Regions from separate parts of the Homo sapiens genome. Here region 1 is linked to region 2. The links come from fine-mapping of genetic effects on gene expression. Tissue or cell type: tibial nerve. Region 2 holds a variant in brackets; the other region holds the start of a gene. All regions are shown on one strand. Distances are between the middles of the regions. Region 1 holds the start of CAV2-DT (CAV2 divergent transcript). Region 2 overlaps CAV2-DT (CAV2 divergent transcript).

Evidence for each region. PIP is the estimated chance that this variant, and not a neighbour inherited with it, causes the effect.
Region 1: CAV2-DT starts here. The variant in region 2 is fine-mapped to the expression of CAV2-DT in tibial nerve (GTEx, PIP 0.97).

Annotation. Positions count from the first base shown.
Region 1 is chr7:116,495,125-116,503,281 of GRCh38, forward strand. It overlaps CAV2-DT (CAV2 divergent transcript), which reads right to left and starts at 4,392. Exons shown (of 3, transcript NR_188012.1): 1 at 4,230-4,392. It overlaps CAV2 (caveolin 2), which reads left to right and starts at 4,614. Exons shown (of 3, transcript NM_001233.5): 1 at 4,614-4,807; 2 at 5,136-5,323. The coding sequence starts at 4,658. RefSeq lists enhancers at 3,629-4,130, 4,177-4,316 and silencers at 4,497-4,586, 6,371-6,665.
Region 2 is chr7:116,453,719-116,461,875 of GRCh38, forward strand. The region is part of intron 1 of CAV2-DT (CAV2 divergent transcript); the gene reads right to left. Among named protein-coding and RNA genes, the nearest start is that of CAV2-DT, 42 kb to the right of the region's middle. The variant G/C (reference allele first, on the strand shown) is at 3,904.

The sequences.
Region 1 (8,157 bases), 41 kb after region 2:
AAGCTATTCACTTGCTGAAGATTGTCAAAAATCACTGAATTTTATAGCTTTAAGAGAGAATCTTACAGATCAAGAAGTCCCAAGCCTGTATTTTTCCAGATATAATCATTTAAACAATCCTAACCTTTGTGAGGAAAGTATAGGAGGCCAGGCAAGGTAGACAGAGCTTGAGGCCTTGGCAGTTGCTTCCTTTTGATCTCTAGGGGAAGGGGGTGGGGGTTAATATGTATTCATTAATTAATACCAACATTGTATTGAAAAAATTGCAATTAGTCAATGATAATGGGTTCTTCTGAACATTTTACATGACAAACAAATATTCTTAAGTTTAATTTCAAAAAGACGTGGAGTTTCTTTCTATTTTTTTTTTTAAGATGGGCCTTGCTCTGTGCCCTCAAACTCCAGTCTACAATCTCAAACTCCTGGGCTCAAGAAATCCTCTTGTAGTAGCTAGGACTACAGGCATCTCTCACTACACCTGGCTAGTTTTTTTTTTATTTTTTGTAGAGACTGGGTCTCACTATGTCTCCCTCCTCAGCCACCCAGAGAGCTGGGATTATAGGTGTAAGCCACTGTGCCAGGCCTAGCCCTGGAGTTTCTAATACATTGGTGATACAACTCTGAGATTTCTAAGCATGGATTTGTAAATGAAGAGCTGGAGCTTAATTTTTCTAATTCACACAGCACTGTTTCAACATTGTCTTATTCAGTGGTTCTCAGCCTGGGAAAGAAGGAGAAAGGTGATTTTGCCCCCCAGAGGACATTTGGCAACATTTGGAAACATTTTGGTTGTCATGACTGGGAGTGTTATAGGTATCTAGTGGATAGATGCCAAGGATGTTGCTAAACATCCTACAATGCACTGGACAGTCTCTCAAGGAAAAATGATCTGGCCCAAAATGCCAACAGGGTTGAGATTGAGAAACTCTGGTCTAATCTGAACACTCTGAATATTATTAAAACATATGGTGAGATCAAGAATTTATTACTGCATTTTCGTTAATACCAATTTGCTCAAAGGCAGTTTGAAAAACAGACCCTGACTAAAATTGCATGTGCGTTATACAGGGAAAAAAATATGACACATTTGTGATTTGAAAAGGAAAAAAAGCTGAAGGGAAAAAATTAGATATTTTTATTCATAAGAGCATTGCCATACAATTTTCAATGCTCCAGAAAAATAACCTTCTTCCATTGACACTGTGCTGAAAGAAGTGAGTAACAAAATGGTTATAAACTATCCTTCTCACAAATTCTAATCTATTATCAGACTGTTATTTCTAAAATATATTAATACACCATCTAAAAAACAGCCCTCTTATCAGAAGCTATGATACATAATAAGTCAGAAGATAAATGCACCAGTAGGAATTTATTATAATTTTTTTAATTTCTCTGGATTACAGGGCACGTAAACTCTGTAGGAGGTGCTTATTGGAGAGTAATTCTGTGATCCAGAAGACACTAGAATGTGTTCAGCCATTTAGCACCCACCCACCCCCTTTCTTTTCCCTTTCCTGGTAAATTTTCCTTTATGTTCATAAGGACAGATGCCATTGCTGTGGGAATCACTCTGGTTTAAGCCTCTTGAGAAAAACAGTAGCTAACTATATTAGTCCGTTCTCACACTGCTATAAAGAAATACCTGAGACTGGGTAATCTATAAAGAAAAGAGGTTTAGTTGGCTCACAGTTCCACTAGCTGTACAGGAAGCATTATGATGGCATCTGCTCAGCTTCTGGGGAGGCCTCAGGAAACTTACAATCATGGCGGAAGGTAAACAGGGAGTATCACCTCACGTGGCCACAGAAGGAGCCAAAGAAAGGTGAGGGGGAGGTGCCACACACTTTTGAAGGACGAGATCTAATGAGAACTCACTCACTATACAGTACCAACTGCGGGGTCGGGGGGCAGGGGTGGCAGTGGGGGTGGTTGCTAAACCATTCCTAAGAACTCTGCCCCCATGATCTAATCTCTACCTCCCACCAAGCCCCACCTCCAACACTGGGGATTACAGTTCCACATGAGATTCGGGCAGGGACACAAATCCAAGCCATATCACTAACCTTATCTAAATACTGGCCAATAGGATAAGCAAAATCATTTTTATAGCTTCCTTCAAAAAATCTTATGTATTAAAATGTTGAAATGTATAAGAATTTCATCAAAATAAGAACCTCACCAGATCTGACCCAAGGGAGAGAAGATTGTTCAATAAAAAATTACAAATGGATGAATAAATGAATCCTCTCCTTTCAAGTTCTGTGCTCCATACAACAAATCTAGATGGGTCTCATTTAGATGGGATTTAGAGACACCTTTCTTAAATACCTATCATTTTACGAATGAAGCTGTTGTCTAAAGAGTCCTCTTGGCCACTTCCTGAAAACAAATCAATTATTTGTGATAACTCTCAAATGTCCTAATAATCCCATGGAAAATGTAAATGTAATGAGGACCAAGAATTATAAGGTAAGAAGTGCTAATGTCAGATTTTTACCCACTACATAAGCCCACTCTTGTACTAGGGCAGTGACTTTCTTCTTTGGGTGAGACCTTGAAATCTGGGATTATAATTTTGAATTATAATTATAAAATGGTATTTGGCTGTAAATTATCTCCTTTTTTTTTCTGTTCCTCACAGTTGATATTATGGATTCCCATAAGGATTCATGTCTTCTATTCACTTTAATGAACAGTTGTTGGGCAACAATTCTAGAAGAGTTCCAATTCTCATCAGGAGAATGGACAAGGTGGAGAAGCAGAGAAAATGCAATGAGTAGAATGTCTAAGTCATCACTTTGGAATTGACTGAACATAAATAAAAATGAGAAAGATACGTAAAAAAGAAGGGAATGGGTAAGCAGGGTGATGTCTGGGAGAGGAGGGGCTCCATAGCCATGAGAGTCAACTCTGTAACACCCTATAGGGTTACAACACTGCCCTTCATATACTGAGGTAGCAGCAGGGAAACTTTTTAATTATTAGAAATATTGAACTTTGCCTCCCACCCCCAAACATTTTTCTCATTCAGTTCCTGTTCTTTTTTATTTCTGTAATTTTTACTGTTTCAAAAATGATCTTTTTTCTTTCGGAAGAAGCAATTCTTCAAATCCAGTTCACATAAGGGGATTTGATATGTTCAACAAGCTCCAAATACACTGTATCCAGCAATACCTACTACATGCCTACTTTGAGCTCTGAGCAACCTGCACCTCAAGCCTAGTTCTCATTGTTTTGCTTTTGGCAAATTTTCACTAAGTGCCCTTCCTCCCCAAACACACGTATATGTCTACCAGACCCTAAAGCCCTTTATGAACATGCAAACTCCTCCCTTCTGAAAACCTTTGCGTGAGTGGTCAGCAGGCTAATTCATCCATTGCAATGTGGCTTTGTGTTAGGGTTCTGTTTCCGTGCTGCCTGCAAGATAATCACAGATGTGACTGCATCTTAGAAGTTCCTGAATCTTTCAAGACAGTCTGGTTCACAAGAAAATTAAAAGGTGGAGGTCGGGCGCGGTGGCTCACGCCTGCAATCCCAGCACTTTGGGAGGCCGAGGCGGGCGGATCACCTGAGGTTGGGAGTTCGAAACCAGCCTGACCAACATGGGGAAACCCCGTCTCTGCTAAAAATACAAAATTAGCCAGGCGTGGTGGTGCATGCCTGTAATCCCAGCTACTCGGGAGGCTGAGGCAGGAGAATCGCTTGAACCCGGGAGGCAGAGGTTGCGATGAGCCGAGATCGTGCCATTGCACTCCAGCCTGGGCAACAAGAGCGAAACTCTGCCACACACACACAAACACACACACACACACACACACGGTGTAGTTTAGGAAGTAAAAAAAAAAAAAAAAAAAAAATCAGATCTCCCCTCACACCTCAGATCTGAAGGCACAAACTCTAGGGCCAGGGCGTTCGCCTACCCAACTCCACATGCACTTGCAGGTCACCTAGCACTCAGGTACCTAGCACTCAGGTACATTGTGGCTCCTTACCTCTCACGACAGCAGCAACAACGTTGATTGGAAGTTTATCACTGTGTGTTACGGGCCATGGGCCATGTGTGTTAGAATTTTATGTGAAATTAACATTTAATTCTCACGGACACCCCTGAAACAGATGCCACAGCCCCCATTTTGCCAACGAGGCAGCTGAGGTTCCCAGAGGCTCAATACCAGCACCATGAGCCGCAGCACGCAAGGCAAACACAGCCGGAGGTGAGCACATACCTGCTTCGCACCCCATGCGCCTAACCACAAGGTTCCCTCCCTCCAGGAAGGCCGTTGTCTTCCCTGGGACGACTTGCCAGCTCTGAGGCATGACAGTACGGGCCCCCAGAAGGGTGACCAGGAGGCCCTCCTCGTCCCAGCTGCCGGCGTCGCCGCCCACTGCAGGGCCCGGGCTGTGACTCGTGGGGACGGTTCCCTGCGCCCCGGCGGGGGAGGTGGGCGGGGAGGGGCGGCGGGGCGCCGGGGCGGGGCTCGGGACGGCCGGGCTGGGAGCTGGAGCCCACAGCGGGAAGCGGCCGCCGCCCGGGCCTCGCAGGGCTAGGCGAGGCGAGGGGGGGCGGGGCCGGGCGCTACGGGAAGGGGAGGCCGCGCGGACCGGGAGCCGCACCGCGCCAGCCGGGCTGCAGCGGCCGCGCACCAAGGCTGCGATGGGGCTGGAGACGGAGAAGGCGGACGTACAGCTCTTCATGGACGACGACTCCTACAGCCACCACAGCGGCCTCGAGTACGCCGACCCCGAGAAGTTCGCGGACTCGGACCAGGACCGGGATCCCCACCGGCTCAACTCGCATCTCAAGGTGAAGCCCGGGGCGGGCGGGCCCAAGTCCCCGCTGAGGCCGGGAGGTGCGGGCGCCCCTCAGCCCCGCCCTAACCCGTCCCACCATTGCTACCGGGTCGGCCCCGCAGGGTCTGAGACCCGCACCCTTCCCCGGTCCCACCCGTCACCAGGCCGCCCGCGTAGCCAGGAATTCTTAGCCAGGTTCCTGTGCGCCCACCGTGACCCTAAGAGAAGAGGCGGACGCCCTGGCACGTCCTTCCCTCCTGCTTCCCCCGCCCAAAGCGCTCCCGGTTCCCGGGGCGTCAGGTTGGCTGACAGTTCGGGGTCCCTGCGTCCTGTCTCCTCAGCTGGGCTTCGAGGATGTGATCGCAGAGCCGGTGACTACGCACTCCTTTGACAAAGTGTGGATCTGCAGCCATGCCCTCTTTGAAATCAGCAAATACGTAATGTACAAGTTCCTGACGGTGTTCCTGGCCATTCCCCTGGCCTTCATTGCGGGAATTCTCTTTGCCACCCTCAGCTGTCTGCACATCTGGTGAGACGGGGCACACCGGGTGGACCGGCTTTCTGAAACATGGGCATATTCTCCGCCACCTGCCCCCTACTCTCCTCTTATCCCAGGCCGGCGTCAGGAGGAGGAACGCGCATCAGTTCCCAAGCAGTAGGAAGAACTGGAAGGCCTTGAAAGGCAATGCGCTTCCTTTAGAATAACAGTTTGGGCTTGGAGTTTCAACAGGAGAAAGAATGTCGGTCTTTCCTGGGGTGTGATTTTCCTTGCATACATAAGGCTGGGCTGAGTGTGGAGGCGGGTACCTGGAAGCCACACTTCTTACCACAGGCTGCTCTCGGGGCCCTGTTGTGACTCGTACCTGCGGTTCTGGGCAGGACTCTTCTTTCTTTCATTGCCTTTTATTCAGTCACTGCCTGTGCTTGGGGTAAAACAAAAGTGATCTCTGAGCAGAATGCCGCTGACAGTAGAATTGGATGAGGATGTCAGACCTGGTTAAGCAGTAGTGTGGAGGGGCTGCTTCAACTTTGCCCCTGGCAGATGGCAAGGATGGGACCCAGAGGAAAGGGAGGTGTGTGCAGTTAAGGCGAGGGTCCCCCCCAGTACAAACGAATGAAAACTCCAGCTGCGGGATAATGAATGAGAAGGCCTCCAAATTACTTTTTCACTGATGAAACACAAATGGAAGTGGCATATAATTAAAGGGGAAAGAAATATGGAAGCCCACTGTATATTGATAGGATATTTTGAGTAACTCTATTCATACTCAAAATGTGTCCTAAACTGTAGAGAACTTTCTTAAGCATCTTTTAAATTTTTTATGGAAAATGTCATATTTTACCAATAAATGTTGTTGTGTTAGAAAATATCCACTTTAATCTGAGAGGAAGAATATTCAGATCATCCCCAGTATCACAACAGTTGTCACGCTAGTGCTTCAGGTTAGTCCTGGTGAAAGGTATAACCCAAGGTACCTCCGTGTCTTTCTTACACCTTTTATGATATTGCCACACCCTGATAAATACTCGGTGTTCATTGTTAGAAGTTACCAATTTATCCTTTATTTCTCTATACCACCTGAATCTTAATTTATTTAGTCAGTTAGCTAGCTAGTTAGTTCAACAAACTTTAAATTGATTGAGTGCTTAGTTTGTGCTGGGCACTGGGCCAGGATGAATGAGAGATAGGGTCTGCCTTCAGCTTACTCACAGCCTTATCAGGGCAGCTGGCTAGGTACAGAGATGGACGCTGAGAAAACACAGTCAACTGACAAAGAGGGAGGAACAGACAAGGCTTTGAAGAGTGAAAGGAGTCGAAAAAGACTTTGAAAGGATAAATGAAAATTCACCAAATACGTAAAGGATACACAAAGAACACCAATTTAATTTTATCACTAAAGGTTGTAAACAATTAAACTATGTTGAAGGTGCCAAGATTGCCAGGGAAATGAAAATGTTGCCTTAGTACATGATCAGCTTCATGAAGGTCAAATGGATAGTTATATTCTGACATTTGCACTTGAATTTTTTTTAAGATCCCTGAGTTGGCACATAAGATTTGGGATTCCCAATTAACTAAAACTAATCATCTAACCTCTATGTCAGTTTTCTCACTTTCAAAACTGTGAAAAACTGAGTGACCGCATAGCATATTGTGAAATGCTGACTATGAAGCTATTTGGAAATGTGAAGTACCATATTTATAGTCAACAAAGCTAGGCTTCCCAAAGCTTTTGTGAAAGAATTTGAAAAAAAAAAGTTTCTCATTTACTAAGTGGTGGAAAGATATAAGTAAAACTACAATTAACCAAGCAATGCCTCTCTCCAGCTGGCTCTTCTGAGAATGGGAGGTGTTTTTGTATAGTGCTTCAATTGGTGAATCATCAATGCACCTTTTTTTAGCCACATAAAATGTATTATTTAATATTATTTAACTTCAGCTTGTTTTTTTAACTATATTTATGTGGGGCATTAATATTTAACTGTAAAACATTTGTCACCAGGCAGCTGTGATTGCAAGTAGAGGAGTAATTTCAAACAAGAATGCTTAAAAGTTAGCTATGCCTTGATAAAATAGGTTTATCATTAATAGATTGCATTCCCATGACATGATAAGACCAGATCAAGGACAGACCTTACAGAATTGCAAACCCATTTGGGCAAGCTTTTTTTGTTTTGTTTTCTTTTTATATATATTTTTTAAAGCAGGGGCTTGTGTATTGTTTTTACCAAAAAGTTAGTGGTGACCAAAGCTAGGAAAATATGCAGTAGTGGAACTTTGAACCATGTCACAATATTAAAACAGGTCAGATTTTAGATCCTTTAAACAAACAATCAACAACAATAAAACACAGAAGTCTGGTGGTGTTGGATCCTAGACCAGAAGTACGGGCCATTAGGAATCAGTGAATTAGTTGGATTCCATACTACAGTCAGACAGAGATAGCTGCTGTTTGTTAAGCACAGGTTATTGGTCATAAGTGGATCATAACCAAAGAAATGTGGCTGGAGCACCCATATCCCTTATTTTTGCTGGAATGCAAAGCAAACAAATGCCCAACTGATGGAAATGCGATAGTAGCAATCTCATTTCTAGAAGACAGTTTTCATACAGTAAATTGCTATGAATGCAGTCTGCATGACTCTACAATTACTACAACACTAAATAAAAGTCTCTATCCTATGGCCTTATTATCCAAGGATATATATTATCCAAGGAATATATAACCTTACATATATTAATATATATAATATATATATATTATAAGATTTACTTAAGAAGTATTGGCCACATTCAGCCTCAACCAAATTTTGGGTCAATCAGAACTGCCTGGAGTTTCAGAAGCTAAACTATTTGTGATG
Region 2 (8,157 bases):
CCACCGCCCCCTGCTAATTTCTTTTTGTATTTTTAGTAGAGACGGGGTTTTACCGTGTTAGCCAGGATGGTCTCAATCTCCTGACCTCGTGATCCGCCCGCCTCAGCCTCCCAAAGTGCTGGGATTACAGGTGTGAGCCACCGTGCCCGGCGACAATTTTATTTTAAGCTGCAATAAGCCTACTCTTCCCACCAGAAGCTTTCTGCCTTTACCCTACTGTTTTTCCCCACATCACTTATTTATTGTGATGTTCATTTATTTATGTTTATTAGTGTCTCCTTACACATCTGTATCCCTTCTGTTATGAAACATAACTGCCTGGAACAGTGTATGTCCCATAAAAGAGCTAAATAAATATTTCCTGGATTTATTAAGGTGGGCAAGGCTGACATGTTTTTATGTGACAGGTAAAAATACAGACTCAGAGAGACAATGGGGAGACTTGCCCAAGATTGTGCAGTTAATAAGTGTTCAAAAAATAAATAAAAGAAGAATTTCCAAAATATCATAGTTTGTTTAAATCTTATTGTTTCATCTTGATACTAAATAAGAGCCTACCTGATCTGCATGTTTTTACTCTAGATTAATATGCCTGAATAACATGTTCTAGAAGTTCTATTTTACTGTCTTTAACAATTAAATTTATGAAAGAAGATATTGATGTAGGTAGAAAAGTTTCAGACAAATCTGAATAGTGTTATGCCTCAAATACATTTGCATATTTATTTTTTGCACTATAATATAAATTGCTTATTTTTGAGAAAGTGACAATTGTTTCATGATTTAACTTTCTATTCATCAAAGTTTCCACAGGGATGGAAATAATAAACAAATTAGTATTACTCATTTGCGATCTGTGCTCATAAACCGTATGTGAGGATCATGCATCTGTTAAGATTCTGCTTTTATGATGCCTTTTTTTTATATCCAAGATTAAAGTAAAAAGCAAATGAAGATTTTAAATATGTTGGCCATATGCAAAAATGTATTTCAAATTGCTCATTAAAATTTTTCTCTACCCATATGAAAAAACTTGATTTAATCTACTTTACAGTTATTGCAAGACAAAATGAAAAATAAAAAAATTTTCTTTTGTTAAATTAAGCCAACGATAGCAAACATTAAAAAAAAAGATAACATAACAAAATCAAATACTTGGGGTCTAAGATAATAAAAACACCAAAAGAATATTGGCTTTGCTGGCAAGACATGAGCATCACCCTCTGAAACTGCAGTAAAAATGACTTAAATATAAACAAGTACCAAAGTCTAAGAAACACTCATCCAGGAAGCTAATTTTTATATTCTTGCTTTTGCATTTCTAATAATGACATGAATTTGATCCATGAGACTCTGAATTTGGAGAACGAGGAGTCACATAATTGTCTTCCAGAGGTTCCAAAGCTGGCATTCTGTAATGTTCATGTTCATAACAGCTCCGTGTCTATACTTACAATTTTAGTCTTAGCATGAATTTGAGTCACATTTATGAAGTTCTGTCTTTGAGCCAGACTTTGCATGACACATTATGAGCAAATAGCAAAACATCCTTGCCTCAAAAACTCAAACTTTTGTGAAAACAGATATAGAAACAATTAGCTGCAAAGTAAAGCAATGTGAGGTTCAAGGGGCTTTCAGAGCACAAAAGAAGAGTGGATCATTTCTGACTTGAGAACCAGGGTAAGGCACTAGTAATGAAGACACATTTGAGCTAAAACAATTGTTTAATTCCAATCATTGGCATTTCATCAGATGCAGCCTAATTTTCTATATGAATATGATTAATAACAAGTTTTCCATTACAATCATGGGACTTTTTGCCTCACACAAATGAAAACAGATGTAGAGCCAAAGAAATGTGAATATTTTAACAAAGTTTTTTTTTTTTAATCAAGTATGTAATTACTGGCCCATGCAAAAGTGGGAATAAGATGGTTCTCTTAGTTGTGCAGAAGTGTGAAAGTCTCAGTCATGCCACAGTCGGGGAAATGTTGACTCAGGTTATTGCACAGAAGCTGTTACAGTTTTTCACTTTGCTAACTTATGTGGAATTTGTTTTCAACTCAAATCCATTTTGGATATTTTTTAATAGGAAACAGGTCTTTAATAATTTGGGAATTGTACTAAAGAGTTCATGTTTTTTTCTAAAGGCAAAAAGGGACACTAAATCTTAAGCAGAAAAGTAAATTTGCTTTTCAGAAAAGTCAATCTAGAGGCAAAGTGAAGGGCAGGTTGAAAAGTAGAAATGTGGCTGACTCTCTTTTCGGACTCAGCCCACCTGCACCCAGGTGAAACAAACAGCCATGTTGCTCACACAAAGCCTGTTTGGTGGTCTCTTCACACGGACGCGCATGAAATTTAGTGGATCAGGGGACCTCCCTTAGGAGATCAATCCCCTGTCCTCCTGCTCTTTGCTCCGTGAGAAAGATCCACCTATGACCTCAGGTCCTCAGACCGACCTGCCCAAGAAACATCTCACCAATTTCAAATCTGGTAAGCAGCCTCTTTTTACTCTCTTCTCCAACTTCCCTCACTATCCCTCAACCTCTTTCTCCTTTCAATCTTGGTGCCACACTTCAATTTCTCCCTTCTCTTAATTTCAATTCCTTTCATTTTCCGGTAGAGACAAAGGAGACAGGTTTTATCTGTGGACCCAAAACTCCGGCGCCGGTCACGGACTGGGAAGGCAGCCTTCCCTTGGTGTTTAATCAATGCAGGGCGCCTCTCTGATTATTCACCCACGTTTCAAAGGTGTCAGACCACGCAGGGATGCCTGCCTTGGTCCTCCACCCTTAGCGGCAAGTCCCGCTTTTCTGGGGGAGGGGCAAGTACCCCTCAACCCCTTCTCCTTCACCCTTAGCGGCAAGTCCCACTTTTCTAGGGGGCAAGAACACCCAATCCCTTATTTCCACACCCCAACCTCTTATCTCTGTGCCCCAATCCCTTATTTCCGTGCCCCAACCCCCCTTCCTGCTTTTCTGGAGGGTAAGAACCCCCAAAACCCTTCCCTCCGTGTCTCTACACTCTCTTTTCTGTGGGTTTGCCTCCTTCACTATGGGCAACCTTCCACCCTCCATTCCTCCTTCTTCTCCCTTAGCCTGTGTTCTCAAGAACTTAAAACCTCTTCAACTCACACCTGACCTAAAACGTAAATGCCTTATTTTCTTCTGCAATGCCGCTTGACCCCAATACAAACTCGACAGCACTTTCAATTTTTCCATCCTACAAGATCTAAATAATTCTTGTCGTAAAATGGGCAAATGGTCTGAGGTGCCTGACATCCAGGCATTCTTTTACACATCAGTCCCTTCCTAGTCTCTGTGCCCAGTGCAACTCGTCCCAAATCTTCCTTCTTTCCCTCCCGCCTGTCCCCTCAGTCCCAACCCCAAGCGTCGCTGAGTCTTTCTAATCTTCCTTTTCTACAGACCCATCTGACCTCTCCCCTCCTCGCCAGGCCGAGCTAGGTCCCAATGCTTCCTCAGCCTCTGCTCCTCCACCCTATAATCTTTTTATCGCCTCCCCTCCTCACACCTGGTCCGGCTTACAGTTTCCTTCCGTGACTAGCCCTCCCCCACCTGCCCAGCAATTTATTCTTAAAAAGGTGGCTGGAGCTAAATGCATAGTCAAGGTTAATGCTCCTTTTTCTTTATCCCAAATCAGATAGCATTTAGGCTGTTTTTCATCAAATATAAAAATCCAGCCCAGTTCATGGCTCATTTGGCAGCAACCCTGAGACGCTTTACAGCCCTAGACCCTAAAAGGTCAAAAGGCCATCTTATTCTCAATATACATTTTATTACCCAATCTGCTCCAGATATTAAATAAAACTCCAAAAATTAGAATCTGGCCCTCAAACCCCACAACAGGGCTTAATTAACCTCAACTTCAAGGTGTACAATAATA[G/C]AAAAAAGTTGCAATTCCTTGCCTCCACTGTGAGACAAACCCCAGCCACATCTCCAGCACACAAGAACTTCCAAACACCTGAACTGCAGCAGCCAGGCGTTCCTCCAGAACCTCCTCCCCCAGGAGCTTGCTACACGTGCCGGAAATCTGGCCACTGGGCCAAGGAATGCCCGCAGCCCAGGATTCCTCCTAAGCCGCGTCCCATCTGTGTGAGACCCCACTGAAAATCGAACTGTTCAACTCACCTGGCAGCCACTCCCAGAGCCCCTGGAACTCTGGCCCAAGGCTCTCTGACTGACTCCTTCCCAGATCTTCTTGGCTTAGTGGCTGAAGACTGACACTGCCCAATCGCCTCGGAAGCCCCCTAACCCATCACGGACGCCGAGCTTTAGGTAACTCTCACAGTGGAAAGTAAGCCCGTCCCCTTCTAAATCAATACCCCTTCTAAATCAATACGGAGGCTACCCACTCCATATTACCTTCTTTTCAATGGCCTGTTTCCCTTGCCTCCATAACTGTTGTGGGTATTGACGGCCAGGCTTCTAAACCTCTTAAAACTCCCCAACTCTGGTGCCAACTTAGACAATACTCTTTTAAGCACTCCTTTTTAGTTATCCCCACCTGCCCAGTTCCCTTATTAGGCTGAGACACTTTAACTAAATTATCTGCTTCCCTGACTATTCCTGGACTATAGCTATATCTCATTGCTGCCCTTCTCCCCAATCCAAAGCCTCCTTTGCGTCCTCCTCTTGTATCCCCCCACCTTAACACACAAGTATAAGATACCTCTACTCCCTCCTTGGCGACCGATCATGCACCCCTTACCATCTCATTAAAACCTAATCACCCTTACCCTGCTCAATGTCAAGATCCCATCCCACAGCAGGCTTTAAAAGGATTAAAGCCTGTTATCACTCGCCTGCTATAGCATGGCCTTTTAAAGCCTATAAACTCTCCTTACCATTCCCCCATTTCACCTGTCCTAAAACCAGACAAGGCTTACAAGTTAGTTCAGAATCTGCGCCTTATCAACCAAATTGTTTTGCCTATCCACCCCATGGTGCCAAACCCATATACTCTCCCATCCTCAATACCTCCCTCTACTACCCATTATTCTGTTCTGGATCTCAAATATGCTTTTTTTTTACTATTCCTTTGCACCCTTCATCCCAGCCTCTCTTTGCTTTCACTTAGACTGACCCTGACACCCATTAGGCTCAGCAAATTACCTCGGCTGTACTGCTGCAAGGCTTCACAGACAGCCCCCATTACTTCAGTCAAGCCAAAATTTCATCCTCATCTGTTACCTATCTCAGCATAATTCTCATAAAAACACACGTGCTCTCCCTGCTGATCATGTCCGATTAATCTCCCAAACCTCAATCCCTTACAGAACAACAACTCCTTTCCTTCCTAGGCATGGTTAGTGCGGTCAGAATTCTTACACAAGAGCCAGGACCGCACCCTGTAGCCTTTCTGTCCAAACAACTTGACCTTACTGTTTTAGCCTAGCCCTCATGTCTGCGTGCAGTGGCTGCAGCTGCTTTAGTATTTTTAGAGGCCCTAAAAATCACAAAACTATGCTCAACTCACTCTCTACATTTCTCATAACTTCCAAAATCTATTTTCTTCCTCATACCTGATGCATATACTTTCTGCTCCCCGGCTCCTTCAGCTGTACTCACTCTTTGTTAAGTCCCAAAATTACCATTGTTCCTGGCCCGGACTTCAATCTGGCCTCCCGCATTATTCCTGATACCACATCTGACCTCCATGACTGTATCTCTCTGATCCACCTGACATTCACCCCATTTCCCCATATTTCCTTCTTTCCTGTTCCTCACCCTGATCACCCTTGATTTATTGATGGCAGTTCCACCAGGCCTAATCGCCACACACCAGCGAAGGCAGGCTATACTATAGTACAAGCCACTAGCCCACCTCTTAAAACCTCTCATTTTCTTTCCATCGTAGAAATCTATCCTCAAGGAAATAACTTTTCAGTGTTCCATCTGCTGTTCTATCTGCTATTCTACTACTCCTCAAGGATTATTCAGGCCCCCTCCCTTCCCTACACATCAAGCTCGAGGATTTGCCTCAGCCCAGGACTGGCAAATTAGCTTTACTCAACATGCCCTGAGTCACAAAAACTAAAATACCTCTTAGTCTAAGTAGACACTTTCACTAGATAAGTAGAGGCCTTTCCTACAGGGTCTGAGAAGGCCACCACAGTCATTTCTTCCCCTCTGTCAGACATAATTCCTCAGTTTAGCCTTCCCACCTCTATAGAGTCTGATAACAGACCAGCCTTTATTAGTCAAATCAGCCAAGCATTTTTTCAGGCTCTTGGTATTCAGTGACAGACTAATGGTCTATTAAAAACACACCTCACCAAGCTCAGCCACCAACTTAAAAAGGACTGGACAATACTTTTACCACTTTCCCTTCTCAGAAGTCAGACCTGTCCTCAGAATCCTACAAGGTACAGCCCATTTAAGCTCCTGTGTATACGCTCCTTTTTATTAGGCCCCAGTCTCATTCCAGACACCAGACCAACTTAGACTGTGCCCCAAAAAACTTGTCATCCCTACTATTTTCTGTCTGGTCATACTCCTATTCTCCGTTCTCAACTACTCATGCATGCCCTGCTCTTGTTTACACTGCCAGTTTACACTGTTTCTCCAAGCCATTACAGCTGATATCTCCTCGTGCTATCCCCAAACTGCCACTCTTAACTCCTGAAGTAAATAAATAATCTTTGCTGGCAGGACTATGCTGAATCTCCTTAGGCACTCTAATCAGATGTCCTAGGTCCTCCCAATTCTTAGATCTTTTCCATTTAGTTTTTCAATTCATACAAAACTGTATCCAGGCCATCACCAATAATTCTACACGACAAATGTTTCTTCTAACAACCCCACAATATCACCCCTTACCACAAAATCTTCCTTCAGCTTAATCTCTCCCACTTTAGGTTCCCACGCTGCCCCTAATCCCGCTTGAAGCAGCCCTGAGAAACATCGCCCATTCTCTCTCCATACCACCCCCCAAAAATTTTCGCCACCCCAAGACTTCAACACTATTTTGTTTTATTTTTCTTATTAATATAAGAAGGCAGGAATGTCAGGCCTCTGAGCCCAAGCTAAGCCATCGCATCCCCTGTGACTTGCACGTATATGCCCAGATGGCCTGAAGTAACTGAAGAATCACAAAAGAAGTAAAAAGGCCCTGCCCCGCCTTAACTGATGACATTCCACCATTGTGATTTGTTCCTGCCCCACCTTAACTGAGTGATTAACCCTGTGAATTTCCTTCTCCTGGCTCAGAAGCTCCCCCACTGAGCACCTTGTGACCCCCCCACCCCTGCCCACCAGAGAACAACCCCCTTTGACTGTAATTTTCTATTGCCTTCCCAAATCCTATAAAACGGCCCCACCCCTATCTCCCTTCCCTGACTCTCTTTTCGGACTCAGCCCACCTGCACCCAGGTGAAATAAACAGCCATGTTGCTCACAAAAAAGAAAAGAAAAGAAAAGAAAAGTAGAAATGCAATCAGTCAGAATATGATTTCAGAAATCCAGAAGAAAAATGTTGTGCATATGAATCCAATGACAGAGAGAAGAAAGGAGATGGATTTGAGAGATTTTTAAGGTATAGAATTGGCAAGATTTAGTTACAGATCCAAAATAGAGAGTGACAGAGAGAACCACATTTTTCTGATTTGGGTAATAAAATGTATGGAGTTTCCAATAACAGAAAATACTGGGAAAAAAAGATAATCAGATCTGAGGAAAAGGAGGGAAACATTTAAGTAATTATGTAACAAACCAAGTGAAAATATCTCGTATCAGATATGAAAGTTATTATGTATAATACATCTTAAGAAATTCTGGCTCAAACATATAAGGAAGAGGTTGAAGTTCTTAGAATGAAAATCTTAATTCTCAATGTAAACTTTGAGCAAATACATTAATAGAGATTGTGAACTTTCTGCAACTGGTAATAAGAAAAGATAAAATCAACTTTTTGAAAAAAGCAACATCCAGCATTAAACACTAGGGGGGAAGCATAGGATGCACAGAAATTACAAGTTAAAACAGAAAGTAAAAATTCTGGTCTAGATTAGCATATGGATTATGCAGAATAAGACAGAAGATTCTGCAGGAAATAAACTGTGAAATCTCAAAATTAACAGAATGACACCTCTCATGAATAGAGAAGCAAGAATTTTCAACAAATATTAGCCAGTCAAAT